4 linked regions of the Homo sapiens genome follow. The protein of the gene in region 1 purifies or fractionates together with the protein of each later gene. This does not show direct contact. Each region holds a gene or a part of one and is shown in the gene's direction. Other genes may lie near its edges.

Region 1 (5,684 bases):
GCTATCTCCCACCTCATGGGTGCACACGGACAGGAAAAGCATACAGTTCAACACAGCCACCAATCGGCCCACAAAGGTATGCCCAGATGCACAAAGTGTGTATCACACATACCAGGGAGCCCAGGCACACCCCCCAGACCCACCCACATGCGGTTGTACACTTGCCTCACCGACACACAGACATATACCCTGATACACACAGCCAGGCCCAACACCCGCGCCACAACATAGACCTTCAGCCACAGATGCCGCCTTAGCCGTTCACGGGAAGGCTCAGATGCACCAAACAGTCGACGTGAACTCAGCACCCACACACTACACACACAGTGTCCTGCGTGGAGACAAATGACAAAATACACCCCACTCGCACCTAGTGAGAGCCACCAACATCAGTGCACAGCCTGTGTGGCTGCCTCAGGCCACCGCCACCACACACAGATGTGGACACCGCTCACCATTGACCTCAGTGGGCTTGGCACAGACGCTTGACAGGCCTGCAGCCGCCATCCAGGCAGAAACCCCCTACTTCCACCTCCCCTGCACAGCCTTGGACTGTGTTCCTCCAGACTCAGGGGGAAGCCCCCAAGTAGTCACAGTTAGCTCCTCCCTATTGGTGGGGCTGCCATGCACGTGTCCCGGGGGTGGGGTGGGTAGAGATGTCCTTGCTTTGTCTGTGGCTCATAGAACATCTCTCAGCATATGGGGTCAATGCAGGCCTGGAGGGCACCTTCCCTACCGCTAACCTGGCCTGGACCCAAGACCCGAGATGAGCGTGGGTGAGAGCAGCTGCCCTCCTGTTGGCTTCCTGTGGCTGGCGTGGCCCTGCACGGGTGGGCTTTTGAATGCCCTGCCTGGGCTGTAGCAGGCCAGGTCCTGAGGATGCAGATGGTGAGTGCAGGGCTAGCATCAGAGTAAGCTGGGCTGGGGTGTTGTCGCTGCCAGGTGCCCTTGACCCACTGTGTGCTCTCCCACTGCCCTGCTCCTCCCTCACCTCCCTTCCCCCAACAGCTGGGGAAGATGAGGGGCCACCTGGGGCCAGCAGGTGCCTTAAGGGAGTTGAGAGGGTTCTATGGCTGGTAGGGACAGCCAGAGCCCACAGGGGTCTGAGGATGTGCGGGATGGAAGCTTCCTGGGGGTGGAGGAAGGGCAGCAGCAACAGAGGCTTTCCTGCAGTGAGGATGGAGGGGACCTTTTTTTTTTTAAGATGGAGTCTTGGGCCGGATGCTGTGGCTCACACCTGTAATCCCAGCACTTTGGGAGGCCGAGGCGGGTGGATTACGAGGTCAGGAGTTCGAGACCAGCCTGGCCAACATAGTGAAACCCCATCTCTACTAAAAATACAAAAAATTAGCCAGGTGTGGTGGCGTGCACCTGTAGTCCCAGCTACTTGGGAGACTGAGGCAGGAGAATCATTTGAACCCGGGAGGTGTAGGTTGCAGTGATCCGAGATCGAGCCATTGCACTCCAGCCCAGGAGACAGTGCAAGACTCTGTCTCAAAAAAATAAATAAATAAAATAAAATAAAAAATAAATAAATAAAGATGGAGTCTTGCTCTGTCGCCCAGGCTGGAGTGCAGTGGCACGATCTCGGCTCACTGCAACCTCCGCCTCCCAGGTTCAAGTGATTCTCCTGCGTCAGCCTCTTGAGTAACTGGGATTACAGGTGCATGACACCACGCCCAGCTAATTTTTGTATTTTTAGTAGAGACGGGGTTTCATCACGTTAGCCAGGCTGGTCTTGAACCCCTGACTTCAAGTGATCTACCCGCCTTGACCTCCAAAAGTGCTGGGATCACAGGCATGAGCCACTGCACCCAGCCAGAAGGGGGCATTAATATGCAGGCGCCGTATAGGGCAACACCTGTGTGCACCTCTTACAAATCTTAATGCTGTGTATATGAGGGGGTTCCTTCGTGTCCTCCGGGAATGTTTGAGGTTGCCTGTATGTGTTATGTGTGTGCATATCTTTAAGGTCAGATATGCATAGACAGATTGACACCTCTGTTTTGAATGTATTCCCATGAGCTCATCCCATTAATTCACTATCGCAACAAATATTTACTGAGCGTGAGCCATGCCATTCCACAGCCACCATTCTAGTACTAAGATACAATGAGGAACAAAAAATCCAGGCTTTCCTGAGCTCACATTGGGGTCGGGGCATGGTGGGAAGACACAGGCATCAATGTAATAAACAGAAACCACGACAGGGCTAAGTGTTCTGGAGGAGAGGCACATGGTGTACTGAGGCCCCTGAGGTTGACCCAGGTGCACCTTTGAGCTTTGCCTGCGTGGTTTGGGTTTGTGGGCTCACCTGCATGTGTCCATGCATGCCCCGTCTGCGTGCCCGTGCATGGCTGCATCACCCCATACACACGTGCACTGCCCCTGGGCTTGCCCACATGTGCTGCTCCCCAGGGCGCCAGGCTATCAGCCTACAAGGCATTGTGGGTCTGGGCCCAGCCTGCCACGCCCTACAGAAGCCTGAGCCTGCCTTCCCAGGAGGCCCAGGACTCTCACCCAGGGCCCTTCCCTGCAGCTGGAGCAGGCTCTGCGGCTGGAGCCTGGGGAGCTGGAGACGCAGGAGCCCAGGGGGCTGGTACGGCAGAGCGTGGAGTTGCGGAGGCAGCTGCAGGAGGAGCAGGCCTCCTACCGGCGCAAGCTGCAGGCCTACCAGGAGGGCCAGCAGCGGCAGGCCCAGCTTGTGCAGCGGCTGCAGGGCAAGGTCAGGACCACCCACTCCTGCTCCTGTCCTCCCACCTGTTCACTTTGCCCCGCCCCAACCCCTGGGGCTCACCATCAGCTCCCCATCCCCAGATTCTCCAGTACAAGAAGAGGTGCTCGGAGCTGGAGCAGCAGCTGCTGGAGAGATCCGGAGAGCTGGAGCAGCAGCGGCTGAGGGTGGGTGCCAGTGTGGGGCAGGGGCAGGCCCTGCCCTCCACCTGCCCAACCTGATGCTTTAACCTCTCTCCCACCCAGGACACAGAGCACAGCCAAGACCTGGAAAGCGCCCTCATCCGGCTGGAGGAGGAGCAGCAGAGGTGAGGGCGCAGCAGGGAGGGCCAGGGCTGGCAGGATGGCCCCCTGCGCGAGCGCCTACTGATCCCCTGTGCCCCATTCAGGAGTGCCAGCCTGGCCCAGGTGAATGCCATGCTCCGAGAACAGCTGGACCAGGCAGGCTCGGCCAACCAGGCTCTGAGTGAGGACATACGAAAGGTGACCAATGACTGGACACGCTGCCGCAAGGAGCTGGAGCACCGGGAGGCGGCGTGGAGGCGCGAGGAGGAGGTGGGCATGGGGGTGCAGGGAGGCCAGCCTGACCCAAGAGGAAGGGGCACTGCAGAGGAGGGAGGACTCAGAAGCCTGGAGAGGGAGAGGGAGCACTGTCCAAGGGAGCCTGTTAGCAGAAGTAAATAGCCGTCATCACAATAGCTGGTCTTTATCAGTGTGTAGCATGTACCACGTGCACGGTGTGCGTTGACCTTTATTCCTCATGATAACTGCATGTGGTAGGTGCTATCATTCTCCTCATTTTAAAGAGAGGTTAAGGCCGGTCGCAGTGGCTCACGCCTGTAATCCCAGCACTTTGGGAGGCTGAGAGATCGTGCCACTGCACTCCATCCTGGGCAACAAAGCAAGACTCTGTCTCCAAATAAGTAAATAAATAAAGAGAGTTTAAGTAACCTGCCCACAGTCATGCAACTGGCAGCTGGGATGCAAAGCTAGGTCCCTTGCATTTTTGCCCTTCGTTGCTGCCTCTTGCAGCCAAAAGAGGACTTGAAACCCAGGTCCCTGTGCAGGAGGGAGCCATGAGGCTTGGGAGGCTGAGCATGGCCGCTGCAACACAGCTCTGTGCACAGACCCACAGGAAGACCCAATCCCTGAACGACGGTGCCTCCCAGGATGGTCGGAGATGAGGGAAGCAGTGGGAGGGAGTAAACCCGCTCTCACACCAACCCTTCCCTCGGCATGTCTTCCCTCCAGTCCTTCAACGCCTACTTCAGCAACGAGCACAGTCGCCTGCTCCTCCTCTGGAGGCAGGTGGTGGGGTTCCGGCGGCTGGTCAGCGAGGTGAAGATGTTCACTGAGAGGTGAGGCCTGGCCGGGGACGGGGCAGCAGCTGAGAGCCAGCCCTGCTCTTTATGTCCAACTGAACTCAGTTGAATTTCAGTTCAACTCAACGCACTTACTGTGCACAAGGGCCGGTGAGGACACAGAGGCAACTTGTAATAACCATTACCACAGTCGTGGCAGTCAGCATTTATTAGATGTTTACTCTGGGCTAGGCTCATTGTATATTTCATTTCAACTAATATTCATAGCTTCCCTGTGAGGTAGGAACTGTGTTCATTCACATATTACAGATGAGGACATTGTGGCGCAGAGAGGTTGAGTGATCTTCCTGAGGTCACACAGTAGTACATAAGTGGCTGAGTCAGAGTTTGAAGTTCCTGATTTTTTTTTTTTCTCAGACGGAGTCTTGCTCTGTCACCAGGCTGGAGTGAGGTGGCACGATCTTGGATCACTGCAACCTTCACCTCCTGGGTTCAAGCAATTCTCCTGCCTCAGCCTCCTGAGTTGCTGGGATAACAGGCACATGCCGCCACACCCAGCTAATTTTTTTTTTTTTTTTGTATTTTAGTAGAGACGGGGTTTCACCATGTTGCCCAGGATGGTCTCGAACTCCTGAGCTCAAGCAATCAGCCAGCCTCAGCCTCCCAAAGTGCTGGGATTATAGGCATGAGCCACAGCGCCAGGCCGAAGTTCCTGATTTTAATCCACTAGAATATTCAGCTTTGCTACCAAGGACCTCACAGCCTCTTGTGATGAAAAGATGTAGATCCCCAAAATTCTAGGCTGGGCACGGTGGCTCACGCCTGTAATCCCAGCACTTGAGGAGGCCGAGGCGGGTGGATCACCTGAGGTTAGGAGTTCAAGACCAGCCTCAACATGGAGAAACCCTGTCTCTACTAAAAATACAAAATTAGCCGGGCATAGTGGTGCATGCCTGTAATCCCAGCTACTCGGGAGGCTGAGGCAGGAGAATTGCTTGAACCTGGGAGGCAGAGGTTGCGGTGAGCCGAGATCTCGCCATTGTACTCCGGCCTGGGCAACAAGAGCAGAACTCCATCCAAAAAAAGTAAAATAAAATTCTAGACTGAGGAAGCGAGTGGTCAGTGATATGTACGTGGAACAGAGGGAATGTCCTCGAGGCTCAGAAGGATGGGAGGGGTGGGGAGGTCAGAAAAACCACTTTGTGGAGATGGAATTTGCACAGAGCCTCAAGGGATGGGTAGGGTTGAAGCAGAGCAGCAGGCGCTCCAAGCAGGAGCAAGGCATGAGCAAAGGCATGGAGGTGGGAGCCCATGGCAGCCAGGGGGGTTGCAATGAAGAGCTGGTACAGGGAAAGGAGAGCCTGCCTCAGCGGGGGAGCTTGGGCCTGCCTGATCCGTGTGAGCAGTCAGCTCAACAGTAGTGTCAGGGAGGCTGCGGAGAGAGCCCCAAGGCAGGAGGCCAAGGTATTTCATTTAGTGCGTTAAAAACATTTTAGTTAGTAATCTTTTCTTTTCTTTATGGCTCACTACAGCCTCAGCCTCCTCGTCTCAAGCAATCCTCCTACCTCAGATCCTGTGCAGCTGGGACTACAGGTGCATGCCACCAGGCTTGCTGATTTTTTTATTTCT
Region 2 (5,684 bases), on another chromosome or scaffold:
AGGCTGAGACAGGTGGATCATGAGGTCAGGAGATCGAGACCATCCTGGCTAACACGGTGAAACCCTGTCTCTACTAAAAATACAAAAAATTAGCCAGGCGTGGTGGCAGGCGCCTGTAGTCCCAGCTACTCGGGAGGCTGAGGCAGGAGAATGGCGTGAACCCGGGAGGTGGAGCTTGCAGTGAGCCGAGATCACAACACTGCACTCCAGCCTGGGCGACAGAGCGAGACTGTCTCAAAAAAAAAAAAAAAAAAAAAGAGAAAGTACTACAGGCTGGGTACCTTAAACAACAGAAATATTACTTCAGAGTTTTGGAGGGTAGAAATCTGAGAGCAAGGTCTGGTAACTTCAGACATTCCTTAGCTTATAGATCTCCTTCCTCTTTCTGTGTCTTCACTTGTCTTTTCTCTGTATGTATCTGTCTCTGTGTACAAATTTCCCCTTTTTATAAGGACACAGTCATATTTGATTAGAGCTCACCCTAAATGACTCTGATCATCTTATTTCCACATAAGGTCCCATTCATGGGTACTGGGGGTTAGGACTTCAGCATGATTGGGGGAGAGTCATTTCAACCCATAACAGATGGCAGATTCTTGTCTTGTTCCTTGTTTCAAAAGGAAAGATTTTAAAATTTAATTTAATTTAATTTAATTTATTAATTTATTTTATTTAATGCTTTTTCTGAATCTTTTGAAATAGTTTTTTCTTTTAATTTATAAATGTGGTGAGCTAAACAGATTTTATTTCCTTAAACCAATACTGCATCCCAACTTAGCCATATTGCATTTTTAATATATATTTGTGGATTTCGTGTGCTAATATTTAGTGTTTTTGCAGGTTTATTTGTGAGTAAGAATGATCTGTGATTTTTCTTTTTTCCTGTATCCTTATCTGGCTTGAATATCAAAGTTTTACTTTCTACTACTTTCATAAAATAAAGTAAGGATATGTTCCCTCTTTTATTTATCTTTTTATCCTTAGAAACATTTATTATGTGAAATTGGAATTAGGTGGTTCCTAAGTGTTTAGTGGAACTCGCTAGGAAATCCATCTGGACCCAGTGCTTGCTTTGTAGGATAGACAGTGTCTATTAAATCAGAATGTAGCCAGTGCTCTGTGCTGCCCATAAACTCATCCCAGTCAGCTCTCCTGGCCTTGGCCTTGTGCTGTGAAAAGAAGTGGGACCTCTAGAAGCCTACATAGCTTTTGTAACAGGTCTCCAAGTAAAGAACACAGAAACTTCCTTTGAAACTTATGGGTAATATAAAATCTGTGGCGCCCACCCCATGTGTAGCCGGAAAGAACAGAATTGTCATTTTTGAACTGAGGTTTAGGAAACTTCCTAAGGAGTAAGGGAAGATGCCAAAAGTCATCAGTTCTCTTTTTTTTTTGAGACAGAGTTTCACTCTTGTTGCCCAGGCTGGAGTGCAGTGGCGCGATCTCTGCTCACTGCAACCTCCGCTTCCCGGGTTCAAGTGATTCTCCTGCCTCAGCCTCTCAAGTAGCTGGAATTACAGGCATGTGCCATCACGCCTGGCTAATTTTTGTATTTTTAGTAGAAGCAAGGTTTCACCATGTTGGCCAGGCTGGTCTCGAACTCCTGACCTCAGGTGGTCCACCTGCCTCGGCCTCCCAAAGTGCTGGGATTACAGGTGTAAGCCACCATGCCCGGCCAAAAGTCATCAGTTCTTTTAAAGTGATGCCAGATACTGACTAAAAGATAATGTTTCTGTGTACATTTGTAGAAAAAGATTTGTATTTTTACATTAGCATCTTTAAAGATGCTGACTAAGATTCTGACTATCACCAGTGGCAGAATCTTTAAAATGACAATGTGCATATTCTTAACCTGGTAGGAAATAATTACTAATATTTTTATTTTGACCCTTAGCATGTATTGCTTTATACTATTACTGATTTATTTTTCTAGTCCTATTTCCTTAATAGGACGGGGAGACTCTTAGGAAGTGGGATTGTGTCTTGTAATTGTTTAGTTTTTTGCAAACTTAGAGGTGCTTGCTGCATATGCAAGGTTAGCTTAATTAAATTATGGTCCTTGAGCATCCTAGCATTTTCCAATCTCTTCCCTACCTGGGTATGTATTTTGAAATTTTAAGAAAACATTAAAATGTTGATCTTTTAAATTATTATAATCATACTTTTAAAGTGAATTTTTTAAATTTAATATTCTTATTTTTTTTAAAAATAGAGACCAAGTCTCAATATTTTGCCCAGGCTGGTCTTGAACTCTTGGGCACAAGTGATCTTCCTGCCTGGGCCTCTCAAAGTGTTAGGATTATAGGTAAGCCTTAAAGTGAAGTTCTAACAAAAAGTTTAAATTTTCGATCATTTTGAGATCACACAGTAAAGTATGAATTTTACACCTTAGAGAAACGTTTCCTTTTGAAACATTACCATGTTGAAACTTCTCTGATTCAGAACCCCAGCAAGTTATATTTAATAGAGGTGTGGCCTAAAGTTTATCTTTTTATGATTCATATTTTATCTAAGTAAATATATCATGTGAATTAGATCATGGAGAGAATTTTCCCACTGCTTAAAAAAAATAGTTTTTTAAATTAATTTTTTTTTTTTGAGATGGAGTTTTGCTCCTGTCACCCAGGCTGGAGTGCAGTGGTACGATCTCGGCTCACTGCACCCTCTGCCTCCCAGTTCAAGCGATTCTCCTGCCTCAGCCTCCTGAATAGCTGGAATTACAGGTGCCCGCCACCATGCCTGGCTAACTTTTTTTTGTGTGTGTATTTTTAGTAGAGACGGGGTTTTGCCATGTTGGGCAGGCTGGTCTTGAACTCCTGACCTCAGGTGATCCGCCTGCCTCAGCCTCCCAAAATGGTGGGATTACAGGTGTGAGCCACCACTCCTAGCCAATTTTTTTTTCTTTTTTCTTTTTTTTTCTGTGTGAAAGCATCTCACACTGTTTCCCAGGCTGGAGAGCGGTGGTGCAATCATGGCTCACTGAAGCCGCAAACCACTGGGCTCAAGCAACCCTCCTACCTCAGCCTCCTGAGGAGGAGGGAATACAGGTGTGCCCCACCAGGTCTGGCTAAGTTTTTATATTTTTTTTGTAGAGACAGGGTTAAGGATAAGTCATTTTTAAGTGCTAGCATGTTACTTCTTCAGCTTTCATTTACCTCCATGTAATTCTGCATTATTACCATTTAATTACCAAAGCAAGTCCTTAATTTAAAGGCCTATAATAGGAAGCTTATCTTTAGCAAGGCTTGAATAACAGTTTACTAGATAATGAAACAATATTGCATTTGTTTTTAAATATTATAGAGTTATGACTTTTTAGTAAACCATATGTTTTTTTGTTTTTTGTTTTTTTTTTTTTTTTACAGCTCTCTCTCCCTCTCCCCTTCTCTATCTACCCCAGGATTTAGACTAAATATGAGGCGTTTGATTCTTTCTATAATATTCTTTACTGCAAATGTGTTTAGTTTATCCCTTATGCTAACTGAAGACAGGGGCTGGAATTATGAATATTATACTTTTAAGAAGCTAAATAAAAGGAGTTTGATTGTAGGTGCCCAGAGTTTGTTTCTCTATTCCTTCCGCAAAGGGAGACACAATTTATATTTTAAATGGCAGAACTGCTTACTCCTGCCATTTAAAAAAGACAACCCTGATTGATTAATCAATGAAGGAAGAAGTATTTTGTATTACTTCACTTTCACTAACTTAGATGTCTGGAAGCTGACATTTCAATATCTGGGTTTTACTCATTAGCTCTTAAATGGAGAAAAAAATGTTGTCTAGGTGGGTTTTGGTGGTTATGTTTGGTTGGGACAAATACATGATGTTGTTTAAGAGCTGTTTGTGCCAGAGACTATTTGTAGAAGCCTGCAAGAGTTCTGCACTCGGCCTCACCTGGGATTCTGGGGATGTTCCCACAGCCCCGAGGTAGATGGACATGATTCCTTCTCTGTGGTGCCTTTAGAACCTCCCTCTACACTTCCCCCAGCTCTTTTCCATAGTTTCTGTGAAGATGAGCTCCCGTAGGTGAGTGTGAAGATGTCTTAGGGGTGGGGCAGGTGTGTGAGTGTGTGTTCTGGCTTATGATGCAGGCTGTGTTTTGGCGGAGGTGAACAGGTTACCCATATCTGAGGACAGAAGACAGCATAGTCTAATCTCTTGGTGCCCAGCTTGGGAAATAAACACCTGAAGCAAGCTGGTAGTTTGAGAGAGGAGTGAGAGCTGATCCAGACTGGGAGGGAATCATAGTATTTATGATGAGATCCAAAAGTTTGAGTGCTGTGTGCCAGCTGTCCGCATTTTATATGAGGTCACTTACTTAATCGTCCAACAATCCTATGAAGTAGGTACCGTTATTCTCATTTCACAGATGAGGCAGTTGAGGCTGGAATAGCCAAGTGTCCATTCCAGCTGCTGTAACAAACTACCATACACTAGGTAATTAATAGATAATAGAAATGTATTGCTTACCGTTCATGGAGGCTGGGAAGTCCAAGATTAAGGCATGGTAGGCTCAGTGTTTGGTGAGGGCCCATCCCTCAGGGGTGGTGCCTTGCAGCTGCCTCCTCACATAGTGGATGGAAGGAACAAATAAGCTCTCTGGGGCCTCTTTAATAAGGGCACTAATGCCATTCATAAGGGCTCCACCCTCATGACCTAATCACCTCCCCACCTCCCAACACTACCACTCTGGGGATTAAGTTCCAACATATGAATTTTAGGGGGACACAGACATTCTGACCATAGCACCAAGTAATTTGCTCAAGTGATGGGAAGAAAACAGGAAGGACTGATGTGTCTACAGACAAGCCTCCTCCTCAACCCTGGGGTATCCTCCCTCCTGGGGGTTTTGTAGAGCTAAGGAAGGGGGCTGGAGTCTCACTTGTGTGTAGCTGTCATTGCCCCCATGGATGGGGGCAGACACAAAATTGTAGAATTCCAAATTTTCTATTTGAAAGGCACCAAAGAAGTTCTCTGATTCCTTCCCTTCCCTGATGCGTGAACCTTTCTTGAATATTTCTGAGAGGTCTTCCCTGCTTTGCTGGAATGCCTCCAAGTATTAGGAACTTAAGCTCTCATGAAGCAGCACTGTTCCATGTTCAGACAACTTGAGATGAGGAAGTGACAGTGATAGCAGCCTTTCACTTCAAGCTCTCTGAACATGCAGCAGTGCTGACGCAAGCCCAGCCAGCTGCCCTGCAGCTCCCGTCATTCTCTGCAGTCCTCTTTCCAGCTCTCTGATCCCCTGCCCTGCTCCCGCTCACAGGGACTGTGCCTTTGAGTTTGCTTCTGGCTGCCTGAGAAGTCAGAAAGGCCACCTTGCCTGATCTTCTCCCTGTGACTTTGTGGAGTGTGAAGCCACAGTTCTCTGCAGAAGATGAAGTAGGAGGCGACGGGCTAGTGTGTGGGAAAGTCTCACTTCCAATGGGAGCCAGGGACCGGTCGGTCCACACATCCACTAAATAGCTCCACTCACCATCTGAAAGCCTTTCGAGATCCGAGGCACACCTTTACTCTCCACATGAATACATTTACTCCGGAGCTGAGGCTGATGCGCCTGCCTTATTGGGAAGAACACAAAGGAATCCAAGGCCTGGCGTCTGCCTCGGTGTTCCTGGCAGGATCCTGTGACTGTGGTTGTGTTCATTGACTAAAGTGCATATTCAAGTAGCTGTAGAAACTCA
Region 3 (5,684 bases), 6.3 Mb from region 1:
GGGCTCGGGAGGTGGAGGTTGCAGTGAACTGAGATCACACTACTGCACTCCAGCCTCGGCAACAGAAGGAGACCCTGTCTCAATTTAAAAAACAAAATAAGCCAGGCGCAGTGGCTCATGCCTGTAATCCCAGGACTTTGGGAGGCTGAGGTGGGCGGATCACTTGAGGTCAGGAGTTTGAGACCAGCCTGGCCAACAAGGTGAAACCCTGTCTCTACTGATAATACAAAAATTAGCTGGGTGTCATGGCGTGCACCTGTAATCCCAGCTACTTGGGAGGCTGAGGCAGGAGAATCACTTGAGCCTGGGAGGCATAGGTTGCAGTGAGCCTGCAGTGAGCCGAGATTGTGCCACTGCACTCCAGCGTGGGTGAAAGAGCGAGACTTTGTCTCAAATAAATACATAAATAAACAGAACAGAACAAAAACACCTCTTGGGACCCGGTTCTTCTCCCTCTGAACTGGTGCCCCCTTCAAATCACTGACTGTATACAAGCACCAAGAAGAATGTGACACGAACGCCAGAGTCCTCAGATGAATGCCCTGGCTGTAATGAGCAGTAGGCACTGTCACATGGCCACCCATGGAGGGCCTGTGGCCTGACGGGAGCGGGAGGGCAGCTCGGCAGCCCGCCTTAGCGTGGGCACTCACACGGAGCTGCCACTTGTAGTTTCTACGAAGCTCTGGGCTCTCCGCTCTGTTTTAAAAAGAAAAGAAACATTGCAATATCAGTCACAATGGTAACAAGAGAATTTCTAAAGCATCTGCTCAGTTTCTCGAAATTAAAAAAAAAAAAAAAAAGAAATGGTAAAAAGCCCTCGACTGGCTTTATAAGCACGTGAAGACTTTGGCTAGGGCAGCGTGTCTGCTCCTGCCCTTAGGACTTCTGATCTCAGAAATGGGGTGTTTAGTTGGTTACACACACATATATGAATTCTTTTTTTTTTTTTTTTTTTTTTGAGACACAGTCTAACTCTGTTACCCGGGCTGGAGTGCAGTGGCATGATCTCTGCTCACTGCAGCCTCTGCCTCCCGGGTTCAAGCGATTCTCCAGCCACAGCCTCCCGAGGAGCTGGGATTACAGGCATGCGCCACCACACTCAGCTAATCTTTATATTTTTAGTAGAGACGGAGTTTCACTGTGTTGGCCAGGCTGGTCTCGAACGCCTGACCTCATGATCTGCCCACCTCAGCCTCCCAAAGTGCTGGGATTACAAGCGTGAGCCACCGCGCCCGGCCAAGAATTCTTTACCTTTCTTGCTGAGGACATTTCATCCTGAAGTGTAAGGCTACCTTTGATGAGTTTTGGCTCAGTTGTGGGTAATAGCTCACACTGTGGTTGAAAAGCACTTTGCAAAATAGAAAATGCGTCTATACATGTGCTGCTGAAGAATGATCTTCACTTAGGAGTCACTCTGGAAATGAGTTCCCACAAACCCCTTGTGAGAGAGCTTCTTTTCCTTCCCTGGTACAGAAACCGTAATGGAGAAGTTTCCGTCCTCTTTCCTATCTGGGCCCAGATAGATTAAGAACCAAAGTTATCCCCGGGCAGCTCCTGCCAGGCTTGCACTGCACTGCCTCTGGCAGTGCCCACTGAAGGGGGCAGCGGGTCTCACTCCTCACCTGGGGGGCTTTGTCTCCATGTCCCGAGTGGCTGGACGTCAGTGCACATGTTCCTACACGCAGCTGTCCCTGCAGGCCCCACCACCCACCTCCACCCCTCCACACCCTCACCTCCAAGGCAACCAAGAGCACCAGTTGCCAGCCCTGCCCTGCCTGCCCCCTTCCTGAACGGCTCCTTCGGGCATCCCTGGTTCTAGGCCCCTGTGAGGGGTGGCCCTGCCGCATTCACTTTCTTTTTCCCCAGAGCCAGTTTCTTCTGGTCCTGCGCCTTCCTCTCCCTTCTGCCTTGTGTTTCCTTCTGGGGAACTCGACTTCTTTTGACTCTTACGTGAAGGAAGTTTGTTCTGAGGATTCAGGCTTCATTTAGAAAAAGACTGAGGTGACCTCTTCCAGCAGCCTCAGAGCGCACATGTTATCCCCTGGCGAGAGAACCAAGGGTCCCAGAAATGTGTTGTTGATTTTCCTTTAGTTTCTCCAGCGATGTTTTGTTTATTAATTTACTCGTTTGTTTCTGAATAGGTGATTCACTCACAGGTTCAAAATGTTCACAATTCAGGAGAACATGCCGGGAAGAGCTGCCCCGCCTCCCTCGCCTCCTGGAGGCTCCAGCATTATCTGTTGCTTGTGTGTCCATCCACATTTATATCTTACAACTTTGACAGTAGAGTTTATAACTTTGTGTTACAGAAATAGTGTAGCATCACTAAGAAAAGTAAATAAAGGAACCAAAAAGTTCCCATCACAGCAGATCCAGCTGACTCTCCCTGTCCACGTTCCCTCCTGGTCCTTGTCCTTATTCAGGCAGAATTTTTACGTGGTTGTAATCGCAGTCTCATAACTTTTTCAAATATCTTGTTCATTTATGGTGTTTGCTTAGGGTTTCCAAAACCCAGGGATGACAGGGAGAAAGTTGGGCGGCAGAATTTGAGAGATTGTTGGAGGATAACCCCGGGTCCGTATGCATTCCTCACCCTGTCCCGCTTCTTGCAGAAATACCTGCTCCCCCTCATCCTGGGCGGCCGAGAGGACAGAAAGCAGCTGGAGAGGATGGAGGCCGGTCTCTCTGAGCTGAGTGGCAGCGTGGCCCAGACAGGTAAAGATTAATGACTCCATCAAGTCACCCCTCACAGCCTTCTCCAAGCAGCCCCTTCTCTGCCCCTCCCCTCTCCCTCTGTCTCCACTCTATGTGGTGACTTCATTTATCTGCTCTGAGAATCTGTTCACATTTGCAAATGAAGCCGCCGTCATTTCGGTTTAATTTGAAATTGCTTGTTTACTGTCGGCGCGGCCTCAATTAATTATGTTTTTACGGAAAGGCTCCCAACCTCAGAATATTAATAAGGGGAATAAAATGACAGCCTTTCTAAGGGCTGTAAAGTTCATTTTTAATTTCTGCTTCTATGAGGTTTTCAGGGGGGTTTTCAGTGATTTTCCCCCTTCCCTCTAAGACTCGACTGTGGGGTCAAGAGAGTCTGTAATTACTGTGGCTCCCGGGACCCCAGCCACCTCCCCTGTTATCGACTCAACAGGGCTCGCGTTCATTACCCAGTGCCCCAGCGATGGCCCAGATTAGCTGGGACCTGTCGCGCCAGAGGTGGCTTCTCTTCTTTATAAACTTGTTTACTAGACGGCAGCTCTGAATCTAAAAACCAGAGCAAGGCCAATGAGAGAGCCACCTGTCCCAGGCAGGAGTCTGTGTCCCTCTGGAGCACGTTTGTGAAGCTCACAGAAACCCTCTGACACGTCCATCCTGCTGCCGTTTGCTCCTGCGAGGCTGACATTGGTGGCAACAAGGTCCTGAGGGGTCACGGGACACCAGGGAGTTGAGCAGGCAGCTTGGGTCAGGTGGGGAGGGTGGGAAGGAGCAGTGGGAAACAGGACGTGCGGCTTGAGCCACTCCTGGATGTGAATGTGGCGGGGACCTGAGATGCATCTCTCCCAGCATTGGAGACCCCAGGAGTTTCACAAGGACACTGAGGCCCAGGAGATGAAGGACGCAGGCGCCAGAGAAGCCGGGAGAGCTCAGCAAATCATAGCCAGCTCTAATTAGAGGGGAGAGGTTCTGGACGGATATACTGTTGACCATGGACAACTACACAATGGAAAGATAAAGTAGAAATACTAGAGGTTAGATACAGTGCAGGCAGATCACCCAGAGTGCAGATAAATTAGATGGATTGCGGGGGCTGGGGGTGTCTGCAGATAAATTAGATGGAGCGGGAACACGGGCAGCTCCGAGGTGTGCGGACCGAGCGAGGGGAACGTCTGTGCCTGTGAATTTGCCAGCGCCGTGACTGCTTTCTCCTCGCAGTGACTCAGTTACAGACGACCCTCGCCTCCGTCCAGGAGCTGCTGATTCAGCAGCAGCAGAAGATCCAGGAGCTTGCCCACGAGCTGGCCGCTGCCAAGGTACCTGTCTCTGCTGCACAGGGCCCTCCAGGCCCAGGTCTGTCCCATGTGCCCTTCACTCTTGTCCCTTGGGCCGGGCTTGCCACCTTCGGGAGCTGGACTTTGCCCCAGTCTCACAGTGGTTACACAGCCGTGGCCGATGCTGCCCTTTCTCTCCTTGTAGAGACAGGAGGCTGTTGCTGGGCAGTCAGTGTGACGTTTAACTGTCGAGGCCATCCTTTCTCTCTCTATGTCACCTCCCAACAGGAGGAAGGAAAAGCTACCCTCTGCCTGTGGAGATCTCATGGCAGCCACATCCCCGCAGCTCTGGAGGCTTTCTGTGTAGACATGGGACGGTCTCTACCTATAAGTTAGGTTGCAGGTCACAGCATGGCCAGGAGGGGTTCTGGAACAGACAGGGGAGAAGCGAGTCGCAGTCAGTTCACCAGCACCAGCCCCATCCACACCGCAGTGCAGCGGGCAGGTTCTCTAGACTCAGGTTCCATGGGTTCTGGCAATCCTAGGGAGCCAGAACCAACTCCCAAGGCAGTGTCCTTGCCTCACTGCCCAAATGTGAAGAAATCTTGGCGTGGCAGCTTCCAGGATCAGGCTGAATCCTGGTCCTGCCACTTGTTAGCTGTATGACCACAGGCAAGTTACTTAACCTCTCTGAGTCTTAGTCTCCTCATCTGTAAAATGGAGCCATAACGGCACCTAATTCCTGGGGCTCTTCATGGGTTCAAGAGGGTGCCTGGCTCCAGCCAGCTCGCAGGATTGCAGGCCTAGGTTCTGTGGGTGGGTAACAGAGGTCATCCCTGAGGCGGTATCAGACAGACCGGGCCCAGGAGACAGTGGCCTGGTAGCTCCAGAACACCCACTGGCTCCTCTCTCTGTCCCTTGTCCCACAGCTCTGTGGCCGGCGGACACTGCTCCCTGTCTGCCCCCACAGCCTGGGCTCTGGAGAGTCCCATCCCGAGTTGCTTACCCAGGGAAAGCCACTCCTAGCGTACGAGTTGGCTTGAGCCAGCACTCAGATCTTTTGCATTTGCAAAAACCATGAAAATGACAATCTTTCCATGGAGTCTGGGGTGTCTCTTGTGAAGAGGGTCCCAGGAATCTCCCCCCTGGATATCCAAACCACACACAGAGGTGCCACCTGCTCTTCCTCCTGGGATGGCTGTGGGTACTGGTGACCACCTCCAGCCACTGCAATGCGTGTTCTCCACGGGTGGCCGGTCCCTAAAGCACCAGGAAGCCCAGCGACAGCCCTGCCTGCTCTCCTGGGTCAGGTCATCTTTTGGATCCATGCTCTGCCTGTGGCCAGAAGCCATTCCGGAAATTGGAAAACTGTTTTCAGGCCTTACGCCTGAGATTAAGACCACATGTTGTGTTTAAGAAGCAGTGGGGGCCCGGGATGTGCTTGGTGGTGAGAGGGGTTGGGCCCCTCAGAGTCCCTCGAGCTGGCTTTGCTGCCGCTGTCCCTGGCCCACCCCAGCCTTCTCTCCCGAGCTGCATGGGGCCACTGGCTTGGCATCTAAACGCGTATGTGTGAGGACTTTGGTTACCCCATAAACCAAAGACCCAGAGCTGTGTTTTCTCAGCTGTAATGTAAGTTTTTATATCTGGCTTCCAAACTCCTACTGGAGCACTGTAAAAAATTAAAAAGAAGAGCTT
Region 4 (5,684 bases), on another chromosome or scaffold:
TTTTGCTTTTGTTGCAATTGCTTTTGGCGTCTTTGTTATGAAATCTTTGTCCATTCCTATGTTCAGAATGGTATTACGTAGGTTTTCTTTGAGGGTTTTTATAATTTTGAGTTTTACATTACTTTTACATTTAAGTCTTTAATACATATAGAGTTGATTTTTATATGTGAGATAAGGATGGGGTCCAGTTTCAATCTTCTACATATGGCTAACCAGTTATCCCAGCACTGTTTATTGAATTGGGAGTCCTTTTTCCATTGCTTGTTTTTGTCGACTTTGTCAAAGATCAGATGGTTGTAGGTGTGTGGCCTTATTTCTGGGCTCTCTATTCTGCTCCATTGGTCTCTGTGTCTGTTTTTGTACCAGTACAATGCTGTTTTGGTTACTGGAGCCCTCTAGTATCATTTGAAGTTGGGTAGCATGATGCCTCCAGCTTTGTTCTTTTTGCTTAGGATTGCCATGGTTATTCAGGCTGTTTTTTTGTTTCCATATGAATTTTAAAATAGTTTTTCCTAGTTCTGTGAAGAATGTCATTGGTAGTTTGATAGGAATAGCATTGAGTCTATTCTATGAATTGCTTTGGGCAGTATCACCATTTTAACAATATTGATTCTTCCTATTCATGAGCATGGACTGTTTCTCCATTTGTTTGTGTCATATCTGATTTCTTTGAGCAGTGATTTGTAGTTCTTCTTGTAGAGATCTTTCGCTTCCCTAGTTAACAGTATTCCTAGATATTTATTCTTTTGTGGCAGTTCTGAATGGGATTGCCTTCCTGATTTGGCTCTTGGCTTGACTGTTGTTGGTGTATACGAATGCTAGTGACTTTTGTATGTTGATTTTTGTACACTGAGACTTTGCTGAAGTTATTTATCAGATTAAGGAGCTTTTGGGCCGAGACTATTGGATTTTCTAGATATAGGATCATGTCATCTGCAAACAAGGATAGTTTGACTTCCTCTCCTCTTGCTTGGTTGCCCTCTATTTCTTTCTCTGGTCTGATTGCTCTGGCCAGGACTTCTAATACTATGTTGAATATGAGTGGTGAGAGAGGGCATTCTTGTCTTGTGTCGGTTTTAAAAGGGAATGCTTCCAGCTTTGGCGCATTCAGTATGATGTTGGTTGTGGCTTTATCAGATGGCTCTTATTATTTTGAGGTATGCTCCTTCAATACCTAGTTTATTGAGAACTTTTAACATGAAGGGGTGTTAGATTTTATTGAAAGCTTTTTCTGCCCTTTAGATTATCATGTGGAACCCAGTGCTCTTTGTCCTGATATTAATTTGCCTCTGCAATTGTTTACCAGTGCTATAGATAATCCAGGTAGATCAGAGGTGAGAAGAGAACCCTGTGAGATGAAGCTGTCTAGTATAGATGGAAAGGCCTTCCTGGAAGAAGTACAGTTATCATTTGCCTGCTCTTAGTTGTAGGCTGATCTGCATTCTTTTTTAAAAATTTTTTTGAGACAAAGTCTCGCTCTGTTGCCCAGGTTGGAGTGCAGTGGTGTGATCTCGGCTCACTGCAACCTCTACCTTCTGGGTTCCAGTGATTCTCATACCCCAGCCTCCCAAGTAGCTTGAACTACAGGTGTGCACCACCATGCCCGGATAATTTTTGTATTTTTAGTAGAGATGGGGTTTTGCCATGTTACCCAGGCTGGTCTCGAACTCCTGGCCTCAAGCAATCCACCCACCTCGGCCTCCCAAAGTGCTGGGATTACAGGCATGAGGCATTGCACCCGGCCTTCATGCTTGTCTGTTCTTTGGTAAGTATTGCTCTGTGGCTGTGTTGTTTGTCTTCAATAAGCTGCTTGGGAGCAGGGGTTGTGTTTGGGTCAATATTCTCCCTTCATCCCCATCAGTATCTAAGTTGCCCAGGCTCTTAGCATCCTAACTCCTTCCTCTGTGGTTGAGCAGAGACACTTGTCTCAGGCTCTGTTGAACACAGAGCCAGATGACTAACCTGCTTCCTTTGATCTCATCCTAGATCAGTGTGCGTGTGACCACCATGGATGCAGAGCTGGAGTTTGCCATCCAGCCCAACACCACCGGGAAGCAGCTATTTGACCAGGTAAGGCGGAGACTCCTTAGCCTCCTCTCCTTCTCTGAATAGCTTCCACCACAATGCCAACAATCCATGACTTTTGCCTCTTGTCAAAGAATCTCTCTTCCTGTTCACTCCAAGATAGATCAAAATGAAGGCTGATTCCAGACTTAATATGAAAGGAGGCAAAGTTAAACTTTGGCAGCCTGCACCCTATGGTCCTGATTAATTTTATCTTTGGTCCTGAATAAGGGAGAAAAGAAAATGGTGTATATTCTATGCTAGATGCTTTAAAAATCTTAGCATATGGAGCCTTCCTTTTAACTCTGAAACATGTAAGTGATGTCTTCTCCATTTTAATGATGAGGCTCAGAAGTTAAATAACTTAATTGCACCCAAATGATATTTGGCTGGGATTTGCACTCCACATTGTTGCCACTGCACCACACTGCCTCTGTCCCATGTTTTTGCTTCCTAGTAGAAGGAAACTAACTTACTCTCCCTGAGGTAGTAAGCTCTATGCACATTTCTCTCAAAAGAATGTTGGGACTTAGGACAACATGGGAGTTGATGGATGCAGTAGGAGGCTGCTTCATCTCCTACAGGCATGCCATGAAGATAATTGCTTACTCGCCATAGTGAAGAGGTCATTCCCATCTCCAACCCAAGGGGTGTCCCTTCATTGTGAATCATTATTGTCAGAAAGGATGTACTGTATACTATAATAAACAGATGGCAGCTACAGACATTTTTAGCATTCAAGGGAATGTGCCGTCTGTGGCCAGACTTCTAGGAGCAAAAATGAGGCTCCCATTTCCAGAGGCTGGGACCTCACCAGACAGGCCATTATCCTATTTCTCCACCAGACTCCGATGAAGTGGAGGTCTGAGTTATTGTCCAGGATGTTAGGCTGCATATCACCCTGATGGATTCTCCAGGCCCTCTTGCTTCCCTTTCTTCCTTGCTCTCTGTGTCCTTCTACCATATGAGAACTTCCCCAGGGTTGGAGAGAGGAAGAAAAAAAGAAGGAGGTAGTGTTCAAATAAGCTAATTCTATTCCTGTGAATACTTCTGACTGGTGAGAGAAAAGACAAGAGTAGAATGGAGACAGGGGTAGGAGAGGGCTAGAAATTTGAGGACAGCTTGGGTACACCTTCTGAGTTCTTATTACATAGAGTGGGAAAATTATTGTCTGTGGCTAATACAGATGAGAGTTAACATTTATCCAGGACTCAGTGTATGCTAAGTATTATGATAAGCATTTGACTATCACAAAGCTCTGTGAGTGCATGAATTAGTATGGGCATGTTTTACAGATGAGGACACAAAATCCTCATTTTCCTAGTTAGACCCTGGGAAAATTATTGAACTCTCTGGGTTGGTATCTTCATCCCCTCCCCCCGAGAAATATCTAATACTTACCTCACAGGATTTTTGTGAGTGTGTTATGTTTTGTATCTTACCTGTTACTCAAAAATCTGATTATAGTGGCATATAAGGATGTCCAATCCAAAAAGATAAATTCGAAATAGGTGAGAAAGATAAGAAAACACAAATAGGAAAGAAAGTGTTAGCTGGAAGAAAGCATCCAGCATATGGTAGAGAAGTAATAAATGATAGCTCCCTTTCCAATACCATTGTGCTTCTTGTATTATTAATTGAGCTGGAGTTGACGTGATGTGGTGGCTCATGTCTGTAATCCTAACACTGAGATGGGAGGATTGCTTGAGCCCAGGGGCTCGAGACCAGCCTGGGTAACACAGCGAGACCCTGTCTCTACAAAAAATTTAAAAATTAGCATGGCATGGTGGTGCACACCTATAGTCCCAGCTACTCAGGAGATTGTGCCAGGAGGGTTGCTCAAGCCCAGGAGTTCAAGGTTACAGTGAGCTATGATCACGCCACTGTACTCCAGCCTAGGTGACAGAGCAAGACTCTGTCTCTAAAAAAAAAAAAAAAAAGTAAAGAAAAATAATCTAGAATTGGGAGAATTGGGAGATGGGCTTAATGATCCTCAGAATATCTAACTTCAGATTTAGGTGGAACTTACTTCTCTGGAGTTTGTTTTGTGTTTGTTTTACTTTGAATGGCAAAGTGTAATCATTGATACTTAATTGGTGAAAATACAAATTAGTCTGAGGAATATTTAAATACAAGTTTACTACAATTAAAGTGATGTGCTTACATTCACATAGCTCACAAGTGATTATGGTGCTAGTCTGGAATGACTAAATGCATTCTAATTATAATTGTGCTTTGCATTCTCTCTTCACATGGAGGTTATATTGGAGAACTTTTAAAGGGACAGCCTAGTGAAGTCAAAAGGGCCTGGATAGAAAGTCATGAATCTTGGGCTGTAGGGTTGGCTCTATCACTAATTCGCTGTGATACAAACGTTTCCCTTATTTGGGCCTCAGTTTCTCATCTGTACAATGCCTAACTTGTTTCTCAAATCTGGTTATCTCTCAGAAAATTTATCTCTGGCATTTATTTGTGCATTCCATCTCTCTTTCTCTCCCATTTCTGTTCCTAGTATTGGGATTTCAGACAATCCTTTTCTGTAAAAAGGAGAGAAATGCCTCACCTGAGTATGATCAGCTGCTGGCATATGTGAGGAGGTAGGGCTAGCTGGCAGGGGGATCATCTCTTCCTTGACAGGCTTTTTACTGTCTCTAAGACAAAAGGGAGGAAGTGTCCATAGAACACATAGGCTTTTGGGCCCTTTGCTTTAGACAGCAGTATCATTCTGGGTAGCAGCTATTAGAGAGGGAAGCGGTTAGTCAGTGCAGATTTTACAGACCAGCTGGGAGCCAGAGGCTCCTTTGACATTTACCTATACTCCTTCCAAGAGCCCTGATTCTACTAATTCCCCATCCCAAACCAGATGACGCCATCCTCTACCCTCAACACTGGGGGCTTTGTATATGTGCATTGCAGGGGGATGGCTGTGGAGGATGAGGAAGGCATGATTTGGAGCCTAGTGGGGGCAGAAAAATTCTTGAACAAAGAGGTTTATTAACTTCAAAAAACCTCAATGCCTGGTAGTTTTTTGTTAGTGTTGGTTTGGTTTGTGTGCTGTGGGTGTGGATTTGAGGGAAGTCCAGATAGTAGGGAACCCCAGATAGTAGGGAACCCTGGGCAGATTGGTATGCTAGTTCTGAATGCTACTGCTTCCAAAACAAAGCCTTTGGGAGACTTGGAAACCAAGAAGTCCATGACTTCTCATCATTGTTATCTTGAGAAGTATCATTTATTGAGCACATACTATGGCCTATTCCTGGCTAGGCGCTTTAATCCTCACAATGCTCCTGCCTCTGTGAGGTGAAAGAACATACTCTAGGTCATGTAGTTAGTAAGTTGTGATATGGAATTTTGAATACAACTCTGATCACAAAACTATACTTTTCCTGCACTGCACTACTCTGTTTGGGGTGATTGGGAGTATTCAACTTAGAGAAGACTCAAGGAAGATATGCTTTCTGTCTTCAGACCTCTGAAGGACTATCATAAGAAGGAGGGGGGCAGTCACATTCTGTGAGTCAGAGGGACAGAGGTGGACCCCACAGGTGAGAAAATACAGGGAAAAAGATTTGAACTCAAGGAATTGAGCATTTGGCCCTCTTGAGGCCAAGGCAGGTCAG

What was found.
Region 2: the proteins of CROCC (region 1) and TGFBRAP1 purify together in Homo sapiens (affinity purification with mass spectrometry; one large-scale study listed by BioGRID and IntAct). This does not show direct contact.
Region 3: the proteins of CROCC (region 1) and PEX14 purify together in Homo sapiens (affinity purification with mass spectrometry; one large-scale study listed by BioGRID and IntAct). This does not show direct contact.
Region 4: the proteins of CROCC (region 1) and MSN fractionate together in Homo sapiens (co-fractionation; one large-scale study listed by BioGRID). This does not show direct contact.

Annotation. Positions count from the first base shown.
Region 1 is NC_000001.11:16,927,307-16,932,990, forward strand, and holds part of CROCC (rootletin), read left to right. Parts: intron 1-2,539; coding exon 2,540-2,725; intron 2,726-2,817; coding exon 2,818-2,901; intron 2,902-2,979; coding exon 2,980-3,041; intron 3,042-3,122; coding exon 3,123-3,288; intron 3,289-3,984; coding exon 3,985-4,091; intron 4,092-5,684. UniProt on the Homo sapiens protein: Major structural component of the ciliary rootlet, a cytoskeletal-like structure in ciliated cells which originates from the basal body at the proximal end of a cilium and extends proximally toward the cell nucleus.
Region 2 is NC_000002.12:105,308,823-105,314,506, reverse strand, and holds part of TGFBRAP1 (transforming growth factor-beta receptor-associated protein 1), read left to right. Parts: intron 1-5,684. UniProt on the Homo sapiens protein: Plays a role in the TGF-beta/activin signaling pathway. It associates with inactive heteromeric TGF-beta and activin receptor complexes, mainly through the type II receptor, and is released upon activation of signaling.
Region 3 is NC_000001.11:10,620,407-10,626,090, forward strand, and holds part of PEX14 (peroxisomal membrane protein PEX14), read left to right. Parts: intron 1-2,612; coding exon 2,613-2,715; intron 2,716-3,933; coding exon 3,934-4,031; intron 4,032-5,684. UniProt on the Homo sapiens protein: Component of the PEX13-PEX14 docking complex, a translocon channel that specifically mediates the import of peroxisomal cargo proteins bound to PEX5 receptor.
Region 4 is NC_000023.11:65,714,832-65,720,515, forward strand, and holds part of MSN (moesin), read left to right. Parts: intron 1-1,986; coding exon 1,987-2,070; intron 2,071-5,684. UniProt on the Homo sapiens protein: Ezrin-radixin-moesin (ERM) family protein that connects the actin cytoskeleton to the plasma membrane and thereby regulates the structure and function of specific domains of the cell cortex.